3 linked regions of the Homo sapiens genome follow. The protein of the gene in region 3 purifies or fractionates together with the protein of the main gene of each other region. This does not show direct contact. Each region holds a gene or a part of one and is shown on either strand. Other genes may lie near its edges.

Region 1 (5,584 bases), on a different chromosome or scaffold from region 3:
ACCCGGCCTCCCGGGGCTGCGGCGCCACCGAGCCCGGCAAATGCGCACGACCTACATTAATTTATGCAGAGACAGCTGTTTGAATTGGACCCCGCCGCCGACTTGCGGATTTCCACCGCGGAGGCCCCGCGCGCCGGTGCCGAGGGCCGAGGAGCGCCCGGGTCCGGGCAGGTGACCGCCCGCCTCTGTCCTGCGAGGGCCGGTGCGACCCAGTTGCTGGGGGCTTGGTTTCCTCACCTTGAAATCGGGCTTCACGCGTCTTGCCTTGTCCCCAACGTTCCACAACAGTCCCGCTGGGGGATTGAAGCGGTTTCACTCCGCAAATATCCTCCACTTTCAGGAGGGAAAACCCACCCTACCACAGTCCGCTCTTCCAAGTGGACGGCAGACCTGGGAGGGGACGCCTGTGTCACGAGCCCTTTTAGATGCTTAGGTGAAGGCAGAAGTGATGATTGTAAGTCCCATGAATACACAACTCCACTGTCTTTAAAAGTCATTCAAGAGTCTCATTATTTTTGTTTTTATTTAACCCTTTCTTCAATACAAAAAGCCAACAAACCAAGACTAAGGGGGTGACCATGCAATTCCATTTTGTGTCTGTGAACATAGGTGTGCTTCCCAAATACATTAACAAGCTCTTACTTCCCCCTAACCCCTATGAACTCTTGATAACACCAAGAGTAGCACCTTCAGAATATATTGAATAGGCATTAAATGCAAAAATATATATGTAGCCAGACAGTTTATGAGAATGACCCTGTCAAGCTTCATTATTACGTGGCAAAATCCCTCTGGCCCACACAGATCTGTAATTCACTAGGCTCGTGTTTGCTACAAATAGTGCTAATAAAGTTAAATTGCACGTGCAATACGGAACACTGTCAATGGACTGCACCTTGTGAAGGAAAAACATGCTTAAGGGGGTGTAATGAAAATGATGTAGACATTTTAAGCATTTTCTACACAGCGAGAAAACTTCGTAAGAACATGTTACGTGTGCAACAGGTAAACAGAAATCCTTTCATAAAGCACCAGCAGTGTTTAAAAAATGAGCTTCCATTAATTTTTACTTTTTATGGGTTTTGCTTAAAGATCTCAACATGGAAAAATCCTGTCATGGCTCTGAACTGCACAATGCATTGAACCGCCGTCCTTCAATTTTCTTCACACTATCAACACTGCAGCATTTTGCTGCTTTATCAAAATGGTTTATTTTAGGAAACTTTTTCCACCTTTCTGAATGGAAAGAGGTTTTCACAAATGTTTTAAACTCATCGTTCTAAAATCAAGTGCACCTACACCAACTGCTCTCAAAATGTGAACTGACTTTTTTTTTTTTTTTTTTGCCAACCCTGTGTCACTTAGTGAGGACCTGACACAATCCCTACAGGGTGTCTGTCAGTGGGCCTCATGGTAAGAGTCACAATTTGCAAATTTAGGACCGTGGGTCATGCAGCGAAGGGGCTGGATGGTAGGAAGGGATGTGCCCGCCTCTCCACGCACTCAGCTATACCTCATTCACAGCTCCTTGTGAGTGTGTGCACAGGAAATAAGCCGAGGGTATTATTTTTTTATGTTCATGAGTCTTGTAATTAAACCGTGATTCTTGAAAGGTGTAGGTTTGATTACTAGGAGATACCACCGACATTTTTCAATAAAGTACTGCAAAATGCTTTTGTGTCTACCTTGTTATTAACTTTTGGGGCTGTATTTAGTAAAAATAAATCAAGGCTATCGGAGCAGTTCAATAACAAAGGTTACTGTTGAGAAAAAAGACCCTATCATAGATTTACAAGTGACAACGTGGACAGGCGTAACAGAGTGTGTATGTACTTGAAAATGTGTACTAGTGAAAACGTCCTTGTCTAAACAAACTTCGTTTTCATAACCTAGAACATGAAGGAAGATTCTTACACGAGCTGGCTTCAGGACGGCCAGGGCTGAGTGTGAAGTCAGCAGAGCTGTTACTGTGGCAACCTAATATTGTGACCTCCATCTTGAAGAGTCTGCACATTTAAGCTGGGGATAGCGTTTCTTGACTTCTGTGAGGCTCCGGCAGGGGAAGAGGAAGCATTTTAATACATATGCCTCTCTTTTACAAAAAAGAAAAAAAAATCATCGTAGGCCCTAACATGTACCATGTTGACAAAAATGCCAGATCAAATGGATTTGAGAAATAAGCCCAATTCAAGGCTGGCTCAGCCCTCCACGGGGCCTCCCAGGGAAAGGAATTCCTTTATGTTCTTGGAAGCCCTTTTCTAGAAAAGCCATTCCATTCATACCTTTGTAGAGCAGTGGGCTGGGTGTGGAGGGCAGCGCGGAGGGTATCTGCAAGAGCCTGTATTTTCCGCCTCCCTTGCCCCCACTCCTTTTATCCTTTTAAAAGTCCTATCAGCCCTGCCTTCGTCCCTTCCGCCCTAAGCCCTAAGAGTGGGGGAGGTTTAATACGGCCAATGGATCTTGTATAAAGTCTACGTAAGTTTTAATTTACCAGAGCTATAAGATGGTTAAGGTAGACTAGTGGGGACTGCTACAGATAAAATGAGATACAAAGAACATTTGCAAATAAATGCCATAAAATTACAGTAGCTTGGAATTTTAGTGAATCATGGCCCTTGTGTTATCTAGAATGCTAATTATTCAAGCTGTTCCTAAACTTAAGTATGACATATAAGATTAAAATCTTGGGGGGAAAAACTGTTCAGATGAAAAGTCAAGTCAAGAAGTTTCCACAAAAGAAAAGAAAAATCCTAAAAACAATCTAGCTGTTGTTACATTAAATTTATTTCTCACCTCCATTAAAAGGGTTTTTGCTTTGGAGTTTTGTTAACTTTCGTTCTTTGGAGTAATAATATTTCTCTTGTGTATGGCGCTGAATACATTTGTCAATAATACGTCAAAAAAAAAAACACTTGGCTTCTTAATACTTGGAAATACGTACATATTCCTTACTATGTAAAACACTTTATTTATTTTGTAAAAATGTTTAAATATGAATAAAAATACTGTAACCCAAAGTAGTTGCCTACTTTTAAAAATGAAACTTGTAAAAATAAGAGGGAGCCCAAACCACATAGAAAGTCTTAGTTTATTTTGGTAGACTTGCTTTTTATAGGCATTGGTTTAAAGTGATTCTTTTCAGAGACATCCTTTGAGAAGTTAAAATTGCAGAGGCTTACGCTTTCTTTTATTTCAAATATGCATAGTGATTAACCAGGAATAAGGATTCTCCCATGTTCTGCCTGTTAAGAGCAAACAGATCTGGAGAACGGAAGCCCACCCTGCCTCCCTTTTCCATCTGAAGCAGTGCGGGGAGGCTGGCTCCTCTCTTTGTTCCCAGACTCCAGGGCAAGGGGCGACCATGCTGTATATGCTGTGCCTTGGGGGACCCCCAGAGGCTGCGCTCTGTGGCCTGTGCTCCCCCGACCTGTGCACCCGCACCCCAGTCGGCCACTTGCTCTCACATCAGGCAACGTCAGCCTGCTGCAGTGAAACTCAACCACGATTTTCCTTTGCACACAAATCCTTCCTACTTCCACCACTCCCTAGCAGAGTTCCCAGTGCCAGAGAGCACTGCTGGGGTGGGGGTGGGGACAGGAAGCCCAGTTATTGCTGTGTTCTATTTTAGGGGGCACTTCCTCAAGAGTCCCCTTGAAACCCGTTACCAGCCTGGAAGGGAGGATATCTTGCCTTTTACAAAATACGGTCGATACTCAATGCACAGCCTCTAAAACAAGGGCTACTCCAGTGTTCTAAAAGCACACGCCAATCCTGAGTTTAGTGACCACATTTTAAAGATCATCAGGAAAATGCCAAGTTCCCATTAAGACTTTAAAGCTCCTTGAGATCCCAGGTTGCGGGGTGCATAAATGGCCCAAATCGGAGAGTGTGCTATAGCAGGTAGACAGGTTTCGCTAACACGAACAGCTATCAGTAAAATGCCTTTATTCAGCTAATTCTATAGAAGCGGAGTTTTGAGAGTCTTTGGTTCATGTGAGGCAAAATCAGGTTTATGGAAAACGCAGCATCTGCTTCAAGGCTGCTTCATCTCTCTCAGGACAACTGAGTCTCCTGCGTGAGGGAGGAGCGCCTGCTGGAAAGCACAGAGCACAGCAGTATGCCCGGAACATCTCCATAGCCTTTGACAAGGCCACACTTCATTAGTTTTAATTTGCAGAAAGGAAATTAAATGATAACATTTTTTCCCAAAGCAGAGTGTCCAGAATAGGACTTCAGCTTAAAACAAAACATAGCATGTTTTTCATTAAATAACCCCCAAAGAAATTCAAAAAGTGATGATGGCAGCTCTGAGAGAGGGCTTGCCTTATATTACAAAGTCTGAGAAATGAAACCTACATCGTTAGCCTCGAGATCTTTGTCCCTGATGATATTCTGCAGATGCCCTCTCAAGGGTAAGTCCATTTTGTAATTTGGGGATGGTGTGGACTTGTATTTTACTTAAGTTTCTAACTAATTTTGAAAGAAGGCTTGGGCATTTGGAGAAGAGTGGTTTTTTTTGTGTTTTTTGTTTGTTTGTTTTTTGAGAAAAATAATTCTAATTGAAGCCTCATTTCCAAAAATTACTTTTTAAGTTCTTTTAATGTTTCATTTCCAAAAAATATATATTGGGTATTTTTTCATAGGGCTGTCCTGTGCCTGGCTAAAGGTAGACAGACTATACTAAAAACCACAAGTTTCTGGAATTAGCCTGACTGGGTAAGACCTGGATAAAGATGGTGCTAGTTTACAATGAAGGGATTTTGTTCAAAGCTGAAAGCTCCATCAAACTTTCTTTCCACTAATTTCAGCTGGGACTGGAAGAGAGAAAACTGGACAAAAATTGGCCTTTTAAAAAGCTGAAAAGTAATGAGTATGATTCATAAGTTCAACAGAGATAGGAGGGACATGGAAAAGGCATGGCGTACATCTGGGAATAGCGAATGCATATCAAAAGGCTTCATTTCTTTTGTTCTTTCATGAGGCTTGTAGCACATCAAATTTTGAATGTCTTCTTTTAAAGCTATGTGCGCACACACGCACGCACACACATATGCGGGCACACACACACATCCTCCCTCTGAACTGATGGTGTTTAGTATCGATAACATTTTCTTTCTTGGTAATACGAGGTAAATGAGGGGGGCAAAAACTTATGACTTCTGAGTAAAATGCCATGTCTTCTATATTCCGTGAGCTGCACAGTCTTGCAGGAATGCTCCACATTTCAGAGTAAATCTGAAACTGGCTTAAAAGCTCCAAATCCTCCCTTGTATGTGGTATGAGTGTGCCTTCATCTCCAGCTGTCAGAGCCAAATCGCCCACCTCCTCATCCAAGTGATGCCTAATCAGACATTTAAGGATTCTGAACTTGATCCTGTCTCTTCACAATATGTAGTAAATTTAAACTTACTTAAGAAAGTCAGTCCCTAACTAAGGACATTTAAACTTCCTTAGGAAAGGAGAGCTCACTGAATGATGTCAAAGTAATGAACTGATTTCCTCTACAAGGTCACTGCAACCACACCAGCTAGCTCTATCTCTACAGGCATTTAGACTTCGCTATGGGGCCACACCACCGGGTGGA
Region 2 (7,324 bases), on a different chromosome or scaffold from region 3:
AAATGTGGACTGTGCGAGGATCACTGTGGCTTTGTGGGATGGGGTACTGCAGCGGGCCTCTACCCATAAGTCAGATGAGCATTCTTGACACGGCTTTCCTGTTTGAGGTTAGAGAGGAGAGAGAAACACACCACTTGTACGTTTTATCAACTGCCAAGATCCTTTATTTTTTCCAGGCCCCTTCCTGCCCACTCCACATCGGGGCAGCTCCAGCATAAGGGAGATGACATGATGAAGGGGCTAAGAGTAGGGCCTGGCCAGCATCCACTGAGGGCCCAACCAGGGAACAGTTGCTAGCCGCTCTCTTCCATGCAGCTGGAGCACTAGCAAGGCCTTCCAGAGGCTCCCAGGGCGACCTCCACATCACTCCCGCTTGTCTCTGCCCTCCAGGGTGCTCCGGGCCTCCTCTCCCTGTGTACCCTAGAGGTGTGAGGGCCACAGTCCTCCTCAGGTGAACCTCCCTCCCCAAGCCCAGGGCCCTAGCACAGGCTGCAGTTGGACGGCTTCGAGCTGCGGCTCTGGGCCTAGAGCAAAGAGAGGGGAAGGAGGGGAAGACACAGTGCAACGTCAAGGAAATGAGGGACAGCCCTCATTTCAGAGCTCAGCATGGGCTGGAGTCATACTGAAAACCAGACGATAACCACCATTCCAAAACTCTGCACCACTAGGAAGAACCCCCATCCCTGACTTCTTCCTCCCTTCCACTGCAGCATATATCTTCAGCCCAGCCTCATACCTGCTGCCGCTGGTATTCTGCCTCACTGGCTGACAGTGCTTGTGCTAAAGCTAGGTCTTCTTCCTCCTGACAACTGGGAGGGAGAAACAGTTTAAGTTGGATGATGGTAAGATCTGAAATTTGAACATCTGATCTGTGTGTGTTGGGCCTCATGGTGCTGAGCACTGCTGAGGATTATCTCAATCTTCATAGCAACACTACAAGGTGGGTATTAGTATTGTCCCCGTTTTATAGAGGAAATGAAGGCTCCATGGGTTAAATAACTTGTCAAAGATCATATAGTTCATCTTAATTTTGAGACCAAGTTGCCAGCGATTATCTTGCATTGTGTCAGAGTGGTCCCACCTACCTGCCTCCAGACCAAGCCCTTGCCCACAGCTTGCGCTCTCTTTCACAAGAGGGTAAGGTACCTTGGAACCTGGGGTTTGGTTTCTGCCAGGGACATTTCCAGGGCCCGCTGCAGAGCTTCATCCTCACTCTACAAAGGGAGAAAGAAGACCAGCGTCCTTGGACTTCACTCTCTGTGTGTTTGTTTCTGTCCATCCAACCTCTGCCCAACTCACCAGGCCATTCTGCAAAGCAATCACTGGAGGGGCTGTCCAGGACGGAGATCGGGTTGTGGCTCTACGACAGACATTGAAGAGGTGGAGGTCAGAGGTGTGAAGGGGAAAAAGGGGGAGCAGGGAAACGGGCAGGCCTACCTGCTGGGAGAGGTACAGGAAGGCATGGTTTGACTTGGGCTGGGGACAGTGCTTGTAGAAGCCACAGCTTGTGCTCTGGAGATGGCAGCAAGTCTGTAGGGAAGAGAGATTTTTGGCATGTCTCCAAGAACTAGCCTTACCCAGGAAGTCAGGAGGGGAGTTCTGGAAAAACATGCACTTGAAAAGGAAGCTAAAAGACTCCCCTAGCCGACAGGGTAGGGTTGAAGCTCCCCAATTTATAACAACAGAGCTTGAGTCAGTTCCAAAAGAATGCTTCCCAAAAGCAAGTGGAGGACTTGGCTGCCATTACCCTGCCCGGCTGGTTGGGTGCCCCTCCCCAGAGCAATCATGGTCCAGTGGATGCCGGTGCTTGATGCAGAAGTTTCGGCTACAGCGTTCACAGGTCAGTTTCATCATTTCTCGCTGCCGGCAGCCAGCGCGTTCACACTTATTGGTGAAGATCTGAGGTGAAGTGAGAAGGTTGTCTCTGCTGAGACTCTGATTAGCTGTTTGGGTTTCCAGGCATCCGTAGTCCCAGCTGGGTTGTGGCTGACCCCTACAATGTTTACCTTACGTTTTTGCTGTGCTGGATCAGAGCGACAGTCTCTGTCAATGTGCTCTCCCACAGCACGGTCAGGGGGCTCCCCTCTGGCCACAGGCACAGGCACATTACAGAGAGGGCACACAGGTACCTGGATATCCTGTAGTCAAGGAGCAAGGGTCAGTCTGTGGCCCACTCCAGTCCAACAAATCTCTGGTCCTGAAAGAACTTGGATATGACCCACCACAAACACGCAAAAAAACAGTGTTTCCCAGCACTGACAGCCTCAGAAGGACAAAAGGGAGAAGAAACGTGAGACACAGATTTGGGGGATTCTGCACGCATTCTCCATCTGCCTGCTTTCACCCTGAGGATCGCCCCCTCACCTTTTGGTAAGCAGATCCACAGTGATGCTGGGCGTAGGCCACATGGTCTGCGCAGAAGATGCCTGAGCAGGCATCACACTTAAGCGGCAGAAAATCTGCAAAGAGTTGGTCGGATTGCAGGTCCAGCGGGACCTCGATGTCCTTCTCTCTCACTCAAGTCTTCCACTCGGGAAGGAAAACGCCACCCTATTTTCGACACACCGCCCCTTCCCAAGCCCATTACCTCCTTGGCCACGCCCCCTCTGCCGCTGACCACCCCCCCCCAGCTTCAAGCCCCGCCCCCCGGCATTGCCAGCCTGGGAGCCCACCCTTCCCTCCCAACCTGCGGTTCAAAGTCCCTGTCCGCTGGGCCCCGCCCCCCGCGCGCTCCGCCCCTCACCCAAGCGCTGACAGCTCGGCTCCGAACAGTGAGCGCCGAGGTCCGGAAACTCCATCGCCAAGCCGGGCAGGGTCTGCTAGGAGAAGCGACGAGTGCTGAGCGTCTTTAGGGCTCGTGCTCGAAGTCCGCACCGCGACCCCGCACTCTGGCGGGCTCCCTGCCCCGCCCCTTCCTCTCCCCCGCCCAGCCCGGGTTACCGGAGCCCCCGCGCCAGCCGGCCCCCGGCGCCCGCTCCTCCCTCGGCGCGCGCGGCGCGCTGACGTCATCCCGCAGGGCTGGCGCGTCCGGCGCAGTCTCCGGGCAGCCGGGGAGGGCCTCGGTTGAGCCCCGCCCCGCCTCGCCTTGCTCTAGAAGGCTGAGTCGGAAGACTGTCCCGAGGCGAGAGGGTGTTGATGCGCGGCTCCGCCACCCTGGGCGCGGGCGTAGCTCCGCAGAGGAAGGCCAGCGAAGGCAAAGACGGATATCTTGGGGGATGGAAGGCTGGGTGGTTTGGGGTCTTTCACAATTCGGTCCTTAGCCCGCTTCACACACGATGCCCTCCTCCTGGCCATTTTGTTCACGGCCACGGCTGCCCTTCGCCTCCACGAGCTGACAGCTCCTGTATTTCTCTGAAGTACAGACGTCTCTAGAGCTGCAGATCCCTCCTCAGTCTGAACTAGGCGCACCTGCTATGTGATCTTACTTCTTCCATTCTAGCACCCATATCACTAATGCGACCAACCCCTATATGAGCATACTGGGAAATCAGGAACCACGTCTACCTTGTTTCGTGTTAGGTCCCAGCACCTAACAGTGCCTAGAACAGTGTGGTCCTCAGTCTTTAGTGTGAATCCAAATCGCCTACGGAGCTAGTTTAAAATGCGGATTTCCGGGCCCTGGAGCTTCTAATTCAGTAGGAAGCACCTGAAGGAATTCTGACACAGATTGCCATGCACCACACTCTGAAAAACCCTAGCCTAGAATATTCTTAGTAATTATTGAATGTAGCCAGGACTACAGGCACAAGCCACCGTGCTCAGCTAATTTTTAATTTTGTAGAAATGGGGTTGGGGAGGGGTCTCTCTTTGTTGCCCAGATTGGTCTCGAACTCCTGGCCTTAAGTGATCCTCCTGCCTTGGCCTCCCAAAGTGCTGGGATTACAGACGTGAGCCACCACACCTGACCAATATAATTTTTTTTTTTTTGAGACACAGTGTCACTCTTGTCACCCAGGCTGGAGTGCAGTGGCATGATCTCGGCTCACTGCAACCTCTGCTTCCCGGGTTCAAGCGATTCTCCTGCCTCAGCCTCCCAAGTAGTTGGGACTACAGGTGCACACCACTGCGTCCAGCTAATTTTTGTATTTTTAGAGACGGCGTTTCACCATGTTGCCCAGGCTGGTCTCGAACTCCTGACCTCGTGATCTGCCCGCCTCGGCCTCCCAAAGTGCTGGGATTACAGGCATGAGCCACCACTCCCAGCCAATATTCTTTTTATTTTAAATTGCATCCAGGACTTTATAAATGCTTTTATTTTGTTTCAATATATAACTGTCAGATTTCAAATAATTTTTTCCCAGTCTCATTATAATCATTTGGTTCTAAGAATTTTGTTTATTCATTTTTTTTCCTCTCTATATTCATCAGTACAATTTAGAATTGTAGGCTTCCAGTCCCGGCATGGTGGCTGACGCTTGTAATTTCAGCACTTTGGGAGGCTGACGCAGGAGGATCGCTTGAGCCTAGGAGTTCCAGCCTGGGCAACATAGTGAGACCCTGTCTCTACAAAAATAGAAAGAATTGTAGGCTTTCAGTTTGGAGAAACGTGTATGGAGCAGACTAAACAAAGATAAACACTGCCTCTCTCCCCACTCCCACTTTACAAATGCTCAGATAACCAAAGCCTTGTGGAACTCAAAAAATAAAAATCTTCGGATCTCATTTTTGAGCATGAGCCAGAATGCTTGAAGTGCAAATGTAGTCATTTGTTCTTATGTTGCTATACAGAAATACCTCGCTAGGCATGGTGGCTCATGCCTGTAATCCCATCCCTCGGAGGCCAAGGTGGGAGGGTCACTCGAGTCCAGGAGTTTGAGACCAGCCTGGGCAACATAGTAAGACCTCCCTCTCTACAAAAAAAATTTTTAAAAAGTTAGCTGGGCATGGTGGCATCCACCCGTTGTCCCAAATACTCGAGAGGCTTTGGTGGGAGGATTGCTTGAGCCTAGGAGCTCGAAGTTGCAGTGAGCTATGATTGTACCACTGTGCTTCAGCTGGATAACAAAGTGAGACCCTGTCTTTAAAAAAAAAAAAAAATCTGAGGCTGGTTGATTTATAAAGAAAGAGGTTTAATTTATTCATGGTTCTGCAGACTGCATAGGAAGCATGGTGCCAGCATCTGCTCAGCTTCTGGTGAGGCCTCAGGAAGCTTCTAATCATTGCAGAAGGCCTAGGGGGAACAGGCATGTCACATGGCAAGAGTGGGAGCAAGAGAGAGAAGAGGGAGGTCCCAGAGTCTTTTCAAAACCAGATCTGATGTGAACTGAGTGAGAATTCACTCATCACCAAGAGGATGGCACTAAGCCATTCATGAGGGGTCCACTCTCAGGTTCCAATCACCTCCTGCCAGGTCCCACCTCTGACATTGGGAATACATTTCTTTTTCTTTTCTTTTTTTTTTTTTTTTTTTCTTTTTTGAGACAGAATCTCACTCTGTCGCCCAGGCTGGAGTGCAGTGGCACAGTCTCAGCTCACTGCAACCTCCGCCTCCCGGGTTCATACCATTCTCCTGCCTCAGCCTCCCAAGTAGCTAGGATTACAGGCGCATGCCACCACGCCCGGCTAATTTTTTGTATTTTTAGGAGAGATGGGGTTTCACCGTGTTAGCCAGGATGGTCTCGATCTCCTGACCTCGTGATCCGCCCGCCTCGGCCTCCCAAAGTGCTGGAATTACAGGCATGAGCCACTGCGCCCGGCGGGAATACATTTCAACATGAGATTTGGAGGGGACACATATCCAGACCATATCATGCCATAACAGACTTACCTCAGAGACCCCAGCGACCACGATAAAAGTGAATGAAGCTCTCACGGTAGTATCTCTCTTCCCAGGCAAATATTTTTCTGACTGATGGGTTATAGTCCTGACTAAGCTCTCTGTGCTGATTACCAGCCCAGGGGCTTTCTCACTGGGTGATGTTCTCATCCCACGATTTAAAAAGAGTGCCCGCACAAACCAAAGTCACCATTCCCCAATGTAGCCTCCTTGCTTCCTGAATAAAAGAAGCCAGGAGAACACTGAGAGAGAAATCAAATAACATTTTGCAACTTGAATTAGCTATTTTAGGAGATATCAATTAACAACTGAGCATTACTTAAGTCTCTTTTATTGTAGACCAACAAAGCATACACAGACCTGCTAAGCAGCCTTGCGCTTTAGCTGTGGGTAACTGAGCTGCAGCCTCTCATTGGGACAGTAGACATAGGTTCCTCTAAAATTCGCAGGCATAGTCATAGCCAGACGCCAGTTATTTTAGCTTTAGCAGGTCTAAAGCAGACAAGGTCAAACTGAGGATAGCCAGAAAAGGTGTCTTGGCTCCAATTCAACTTGAATATTAGTTTAATGGTATTTGTCTCAGTGGTTTTCCGCCTCTCAATTGACTCTTAGTGAAACAGTGCATATAGAAATGGAAGGAAAAGGCCAGGCACGATGGCTCATGCCTATAATCCCAACACTTTGGGAGGCTGAGGTGGGCAGATCACCAGAAGCCAGGAGTTCAAGACCACCCTGGCCAACATGGTGAAACCCTGTCTTTACTAAAAATACAAAAATCAGCCAGGCATGGTGGCAACAGAGCGAGACTATGTCTCAATTAATAAAGAAACAGGAAAAAAAAGAAATGGAAAGAAAAACTAGCACTTATTGTTGTGTCCTGCTCTTCCTCATGTGTTAGCTTATTTAATCCCCTGTGAAAATCCTTTGAAGTAGGCCGGGCACGGTGGCTCACGCCTGTAATCCCAGCACTTTGGGAGGCCAAGGCGGGCAGATCACAAGGTCAGGAGATCGAGACCATCCTGGCTAGCACGGTGAAACCCTGTCTCTACTAAAAATACAAAAAATTAGCTGGGCGTGGTGGCGGGCACCTGTGGTCCCAGCTACTCGGGAGGCTGAAGCAGGAGAATGGCGTGAACCCAGGAGGCGGAGCTTGCAGTAAGCCGAGATTGTGCCACTGCACTCCAGCTTGGGCAACAGAGTGAGACTCTGTCTCAAAAAAAAAAAAAAAAAAAGAAAGAAAATCTTTTGAAAAAGATATCATGTATCCCCATTTTGCAGATAAAAAATCTGAAGTTGAGAGAGATTAAATTACTTGCTACGAAGTCAGAATCTGGACCTAAATTTTTGTATTGTCTTCAGTTCTATGTTCTTTCCATCATACAAATTTGCCTCCCAAAAATCTACTCTTGGACCCTCCTTAACTACTGAAAAGAGGAATCTTTTTTTTTTTTTTTTGAGATGGAGTATCGCTCTGTCGCCCAGGCTGGAGTGCAGTGGCATGATCTCAGCTCACTGCAACCTCTGCCTCCTGGGTTCAAGCAACTCTCC
Region 3 (7,040 bases):
GTAAAACCCCATCTCTACTAAAAGTACAAAAAATTAGCCGGGCATGGTGGCGGGGGCCTGTAGTCCCGGCTACTTGGGAGGCTGAGGCAGGAGAATGGCGTGAACCCGGGAGGCGGAGCTTGCAGTGAGCCGAGATCGCGCCACTGCACTCTAGCCTGGGTGACAGAGCGAGACTCCGTCTCGAAAAATAAAAATAAAAATAAAAAAATAAATTAAATAGAAACATTTGGCTAACATGGTGAAAGCCCATCTCTACTAAAAAATACAAAAAATTAGCCGGGCGTGGTGCCGGGCATCTGTAGTCCCAACTACTCGGGAGGCTGAGGCAGAAGAATGGCGTGAACCCGGGAGGCGGAGCTTGCAGTGAGCCAAGATCGAGCCACTGCATTCCAGCCTGGGCGACAAAGTGAGACTCCGTCTCAAAAAAAAGAAAAAAAAAAAAAAGAAGGAATAATTTAAAGAATAAGGGAGACTGGGCATGGTGGCTCATAAGCCTGTAATCCCAACACTTTGGGAGGCTGAGGTGGGAGAATTGCTTGAGCCCAGGAGTTTGAGAACAGCCTGGGCAACGTGAGGAGATCCTGTCTCTACAAAAAATTTAAAAATTGGCTTGGCATGGTGGTGTGCACCTGTAGTCCCAGCTACTCGAGAGACTGAGGCAGGAGGGTCACTTGGGCCCAGGTGGTCAAGGCTGCAGTGACCTACGATCATGCCACTGCACTCCAGCCTGGACCCAGTCTCAAAAAAAATAAATAAATAAAATGGAAAGAAAAGAATGGGGGAAAGAGCGAACCCACGCCCTCTGCTCACTGTTCTCATTACTAACACCACCTTCTGTGCCTCTGCTGGGATACAACAGGAAGGACACGGCACCCCTGATGAGGTTTCCTTAACTAAAAACTGACACAGAATCTACCAAAAACTCTGAATCTCCACAGTCATTTATAGCAACTATGGGCATAGAAAAACAAATTAAACACACCAGGAAGAAACAATGGACGAAATCCAGAATAGGAGCTATTCTACAGGAAAATGATCCAGTTTCTTCCACAAATCAAAGGCCTAACAAAAGGGGAGGGGAAACTCTGAAAATAATAAAAGAGATTTAGGACACATGACTACCAAACAGCATGTGGGCCTTGTTTGGATTCAGCTTTGAACAAATCAAACATGGAAAACCATCTGCAACCCCACTGGGGAGACCGCCTCAATTTTATTAGGTGTGATGATGGTTATATATTTAAAGCTCCCATCACTTAGAGATATAATGAAGTTGGCTGGGCACGGTGGCTCACGCCTGTAATCCCAGCACTTTGGGAGGCTAAGGTGGGTGGATCATCTGAGGTCAGGAGTTCGAGACCAGCCTGGCCAACATGGTGAAACCCCATCTCTACTAAAAATATATTTTAAAAAATTAGCCAGGCATGGTGGCCCGTGCCTGTAGTCCCAGCTATTTGAGAGGCTGAGGCAGGAGAATCGCTTGAACCCGGGAGGTGGAGGTTGCAGTGAGCCAAGATCACGCCACTGCACTCCAGCCTGAGCAACGGAGCAAGTCTCCGTCTCAAAAAAAAAAAGGTATAATGAAGTGTTTACAGATGAAATGGCATGTTGCCTGAGATTTGCTTAAAATAATCTAGCAAATTAGGAGGGAATGGATGGAAACGAGATTAGCAAAATGCTGGGAATGACTGAAATGTAAGTGAAAGGCATATGGGGATCATTACACTATGCATTCTGTTTGAAAACTTTGAGACCGGGCATGGTGGCTCTTGCCTGTAATCCCAGGATTTGGGAGCTGGAGGTGGGAGGGTCACTGAAGCCCAGGAATTCAAGACCAGCCTGGGAAACATAACAAAACCCTGTCTCTACAAAAAAAAAAATTTTTTTAATTAGCTGGGCATGGTGGTGCATGTCTGTAGTCCCAGCTATGTGGGAGGCTGAGGTGGGAGGATTGTTTGAGATCAGGGATTTGAGACTGCAGTGAATTATGATCACATCACTGCACTCCAGCCTGGGGGACAGAGTAAGACCCCATCTCAAAAAAAAAAAAAAAAGAATCAAAGAAAATTTTCAAAATAAAAAATGTTTGAAATAAGATGCAAATGCAATCTAAGGCATTTGAGAAACAGAAAGAAAACTCTCAAGTCCTGCACAGTCCCACCTGGTCCTCTCCACTCATTTGTGTTAACTCCCTGGACTCTGCCTTATAGCTGTCATTTCTGACAGCTTTAGAGCAACCCCTCCTCTCAGGGTCCCAGCCTGTGCCCTGTGCTATTATATGAAGCAAAAATATAATACCAAGGAGTAGACTTTCAAATCAAAGACATTTCACCATATATACAAATTCTGATTCATTCATGGGGGCTGTCTGAAGGTTGAGGAGGACTCTTGGCTCAGCAGGAAAATGCACTACAATTGATTAGCGATGTCTGCCATGGGCAAGAGAGTGGGCAGGTAGTGACTGGCTTGACATGCCTGCCATCTTCATGTTAGGCATTACCTAAGGATTGTCAGACGGATCTCAAAGCCTGGAGAATAATCCTCATAGCGGATGATCTTGGCAAAGATCATTGGGGTGATAAAATTGGCCAGCGTGATCACAATAGACGGTAGATACAATATGAAGAGGTTCTCTCCAAAAACCATCTTGTCGATTTCCTAGGAGGATAACAAAACTTATTAGTCAGGAGTATATGAGGAAGTTACACCACAAATAGATAGAACAAAAAAGAACTCAACTATGTGTGTTGGGCAAACAAAACGTATTTGTCATTCAACATGGCCTGTAAGCATAAGTCATCTCGTTCCTTTTTTTTTTTTTTTTTTTTTTTGAGATGGAGTCTCCTTCTGTCACCCAGGCTGGAGTGCAGGGACATAATCTCGGCTCACTGCAACCTCCGTCTCCCAGGTTCATGCGATTCTCCTGCCTCAGCCTCCCGAGTAGCTGGGACTACAGGCACCCCCCACCATGCCAGGCTAATTTTTGTATTTTTAGTAAAGACAGGGTGTCACCATGTTGGTCAGGCTGGTCTCAAACTCCTGACCTCAGGTGATCCACCCGCTTTGGCTTCCCAAAGTGCTAGGATTACAGGCATGAGCCACCTCGCCCGGCCGCCATCTCCTTCTTCAGATATTCAAAAAGAGGTATCTAGTACTGTGCAGGAAGAAAACCAGGATCTACTGGATTTATTAAAGGGATGTATAAGAAGACCCATGTATTCTGTATAAACGGGCAATTTAAAGTATCTTCAAGGGTGTAGAATTGATTTGATTTGAAATTGAAATAGCAATTCCCTGCTTTCACAGTAACAGACTACCTGGACAATATATAGCCATCCGCAATAAAAAGTAAATTTCCTAGCCTCCCTTGTAGCTAGGTACTACCATGTGACTAAATTCTGGCCAAGGGGATATAAGTGGAAGTTTTTAGTGTAACCCACAGGTTATGCCCTTTAAAGGAAGAAATGTGCCCTCCTTAGCCCCTTCATCTCCTTCCCCTTGGCTAGAATGTGGCCATGGTGGTGAGCTATCTTGTACCATACAGAAGACCATACCCAGCCAGGTGTGGTGGCTCATGCCTGTAATCCCAGCACTTTGGGATGCTGAGACAGGTGGATCACTTGAGGTCAGAAGTTCAAGACCAGCCTGGCCAAACTGGTGAAACCCTGTCTCTACCAAAAATACAAAAATTAGCCAGGTGTGTTGGCGGGTGCCTGTAATCCCAGCTACTCGGGAGGCTGAGACAGGAGAATGACTTGAACCCGGGAGGTGGAGGTTGCAGTGAGCCGGGATCGTGCCACTGCACTCCAGCCTGGGTGACAGAGTGAGACTCTGTCTCAAAAAAAAAAAAAAAAGAAAAAAGAAAGAAGAAAAGAAAACCATATCCTAGGGAGGGCAGAGCCACAAGATGAACGGAACCTGGACCCCTGATGATTGATTGCATAAAACAGAGCCACTAGACAAACTTGGAATTTTAAAACCACTGCTATTTTAGGTAAACCAAGGCCTTAGTTCAAAAATAACAGTCAGGGATAAAACCCTAGTCCAGCCTAGTTTTGAATATTGCAAATTCCAGGAGCAGTAAGGATCTCAAACACTACACTTTAGATGCTTTTAAAATTTTCTCTAAGGCCAGGTGCGGTGGCTAACACCTGCAATCCCAGCACTTTGGGAGGCCAAGGTGGGTGGATCTCTTGAGGTCAGGAGTTCGAGACCAGCCTGGCCAACATGGTGAAACCCCCGTCTCTGCTAAAAATACAAAAATTAGCTGGGTGTGGTGGCACATCCCTGTAATGCCAGCTACTAGGGAGGCTGAGGCATGAGAATCACTTGAACCTGGGAGGTGGAGGTTACAGTGAACTGAGATCACACCACCACACTTCAGCCTGAGCGACAGAGTGAGACTCTGTCTCAACAACAAAAACAAAAAAGTTCTCTTAAAAGTGAAAACTGGGCAGGGCACAATGGCTCACACCTGTAATCCCAGCACTTTGGGAGGTGGAGGCGGGCAGATCACCTGAGGTCAGAAGTTCAAAACCAGCCTGATCAACATGGAGAAACCCAGTCTCTACTAAAAACACAAAATTAGCCAGGCGTGGTGGCACATGCCTGTAATCCCAGCTACTCGGGAGGCTGAGGCAGGAGAATCATTTGAACCTGGGAGGCAGAGGCTGCAGTGAGCCAAGACAATGCCATTGCACTCCAGTCTGGGCAAGAAGAGCAAAACTCCATCTCAAAAAAAAATAAAAAAGTGGAAACTGATCACCTCTGATTTTCAGGTCTTGATCATATCAGCCAAACTTGTATCTCCATATGTAAAACAGAAATGACGATGGTATCTACCTCACAGATTTTCAGTGCACTAGGCATAATGTCCAGCCAGAGTACAAGTTAATTTACCTTTTTCATGTGCTCTTGCGAGAAGACAGTTGCTACGTATATTGCATAAAAGCATGCCCCTAAAACAGCCAGAACAATACAGTTCAAAAACAGTCTCAAAGAGTAAATGCGTATTGTTTCTTCTGAGGTCCTTTCTGCTATTTTCTGCCGCATTCTTTCTTCCTCCAGATCTGCCTGAAGATAAAAGAAAATTCACTTGTGAGCAGTGGGATGAAGGGATACTCAGGGATAGAAATTGATTCATCATTCTCTCCCCATCCATCTTTAAGAGTTCTAGCCAGGCATGGTGGCTCACTCCTGTAACCCTAGCACCGTGGCAGGCCAAGGTAGGAGGATCACTTGAGCCCAGGAGTTCAAGACCAACCCTGGCAACATAGTGAGACCCCATCTCTACAAGAAAACCCAGAAGAATTAGCTGGGTGTGGTGATGAGTGCCTGTAGTCGCTGCTACTCGGGAGGCTGATGTGGAAGATTGCTTGAGCCCGGGAGTTCGAGTCTGCAGTGATGTATGATCACGTCACTGTACTCCAGCCTGGGTGACAGAGTAAAATGCTATCTCAGAAAAAAAAAAAAAAGACATCTTTTAAATATTCATCTCCCCCAAGAAACCATCCTAGACTTAGCCCAACTACTTTTTTTCTTTCTTTTTTTTTTTTTTTTTGAGACAGAGTCTCGCTCTGTTGCCAGGCTGGAGTGCAGTGGTCCAATCTCGGCTCACTGCAACCTCTGACTCCCTGGTTCCAGTCATTCTCCTGCCTCAGCCTCCCGAGAAGCTAGGATTACAGGCATGCACCACCATGCCCAGCTAATTTTTGTAATTTTAGTAGAGACGGGGTTTCACCATATTGGCCAGGATGGTCTCAATCTCCTGACCCTGACCTGCCTCGGCCTCCCAAAGTGCTGGATTACAGGCATGAACCACTGCGCCTGGCCTAGCCCAACTATTTTTTATGTCTACTAAAGACCTAAGTAAAGACAGAACCTCCTATTTAAGACTGCAATTGGGCTTTGCAATAAATGTGAAAACAGAACTATAAACTATTCATATTACTTAAATATAGTATGTGTCATTTCTTCAAACACAATACAGGTGAGGTGTTGTTATTTTTTCTTTTACACAATGTAGTAGTCTCTGCTTTTATTAGGATAATTTAATCAGTTCGTATTTAGTGTAAGAAAGAATAGATTTGATTTGATTCCTTCCATTTTATTATGCTTTTGATTTATTTGTCCCCTCCTCCTTTTCTTTGATGGGTTTATTTTTATTAACATGCTATTCTTTACTCCTTTCTCTCCTTATTCATTTGGAAACTCTCATGTACTTTTTTTTTTTGAGATGGAGTCTAGCTCTGTCACCCAGGCTGGAATGCAGTGGCACAATCTAGGCTCACTGCAACCTCTGCCTCCTGGTTCAATTGATTCTCTTGCCTCAGACTCCCAAGTAGCTGGGACTACAGGCATGTGCCACCATGCCCAAGTAATTTTTTGTATTTTTAGTAGAGATGGTTGGAAACTCTCTTGTACTTTTTTTTTCTTTTTTGAGACGGAGTCTCGCTCTGTCACCCAGGCTGGAATGCAGTGGTGCAACCTCGGCTCACTGCAACCTCTGCCTCCCGGTTCAAGCGATTCTCTTGCCTCAGACTCCCAAGTAGCTGGGACTACAGGCATGTGCCACCATGCCTGGCTAATTTTTTGTATTTTTAGTAGAGATGGGGTTTCACCGTGTTAGCCAGGATGGTCTCGATCTCCTGACCTTGTGATATGCCTGCCTCAGCCTCCCAAAGTGCTGGGATTACAGGCATAAGCCACCACGCCCGGTCTGTACTTTTTCATATACTCTCCATCTCACACTATTGTCATAACATTCCCTCCTCACTCCCATTTCTCCTGGTATAAGTAGTGTTTATGACAGGTCCTCCTCAGGTGGAAAAATAACAGTGTAAAGTAGCAGGGTGTGGGGAAAGACATCACCTTCTTCCAGCCACTGCATCCCCACCCCACTTCCCAGTCCCAGTTCACCAGTGCTCCTGTTCAGGTCTAGGGTAATCAACCCCAGTAACGTGTTCGCTGTGAAACGTTCTTGAAAGCTACAGAGGGGTAACTTGCTAAGTACCAGGGACAACCTGTCCCCGACCCTTGAT

What was found. Proteins that work in one complex are often made in the same cells at the same time.
Region 1: the proteins of TMC7 (region 3) and HLCS purify together in Homo sapiens (affinity purification with mass spectrometry; 2 studies listed by BioGRID and IntAct, with this or other methods). This does not show direct contact.
Region 2: the proteins of TMC7 (region 3) and ZFAND2B purify together in Homo sapiens (affinity purification with mass spectrometry; 2 studies listed by BioGRID and IntAct, with this or other methods). This does not show direct contact.

What each region holds. Positions count from the first base shown.
Region 1 is NC_000021.9:36,748,122-36,753,705, forward strand, and holds the end of HLCS (biotin--protein ligase), read right to left. Parts: 3' UTR 505-5,584; downstream 1-504. UniProt on the Homo sapiens protein: Biotin--protein ligase catalyzing the biotinylation of the 4 biotin-dependent carboxylases acetyl-CoA-carboxylase, pyruvate carboxylase, propionyl-CoA carboxylase, and methylcrotonyl-CoA carboxylase.
Region 2 is NC_000002.12:219,202,462-219,209,785, reverse strand, and holds ZFAND2B (AN1-type zinc finger protein 2B), read right to left. Parts: upstream 3,005-7,324; 5' UTR 2,799-3,004; coding exon 2,744-2,798; intron 2,460-2,743; coding exon 2,365-2,459; intron 2,139-2,364; coding exon 2,007-2,138; intron 1,900-2,006; coding exon 1,748-1,899; intron 1,531-1,747; coding exon 1,438-1,530; intron 1,361-1,437; coding exon 1,300-1,360; intron 1,215-1,299; coding exon 1,147-1,214; intron 810-1,146; coding exon 737-809; intron 525-736; coding exon 480-524; coding exon of another isoform or gene 164-479; 3' UTR 138-163; downstream 1-137. UniProt on the Homo sapiens protein: Plays a role in protein homeostasis by regulating both the translocation and the ubiquitin-mediated proteasomal degradation of nascent proteins at the endoplasmic reticulum.
Region 3 is NC_000016.10:19,035,907-19,042,946, reverse strand, and holds part of TMC7 (transmembrane channel-like protein 7), read right to left. Parts: intron 5,074-7,040; coding exon 4,900-5,073; intron 2,659-4,899; coding exon 2,501-2,658; intron 1-2,500. UniProt on the Homo sapiens protein: Acts as an inhibitory modulator of PIEZO2 mechanosensitive channel in dorsal root ganglion (DRG) neurons through physical interactions or interference with the interaction between PIEZO2 and the cytoskeleton.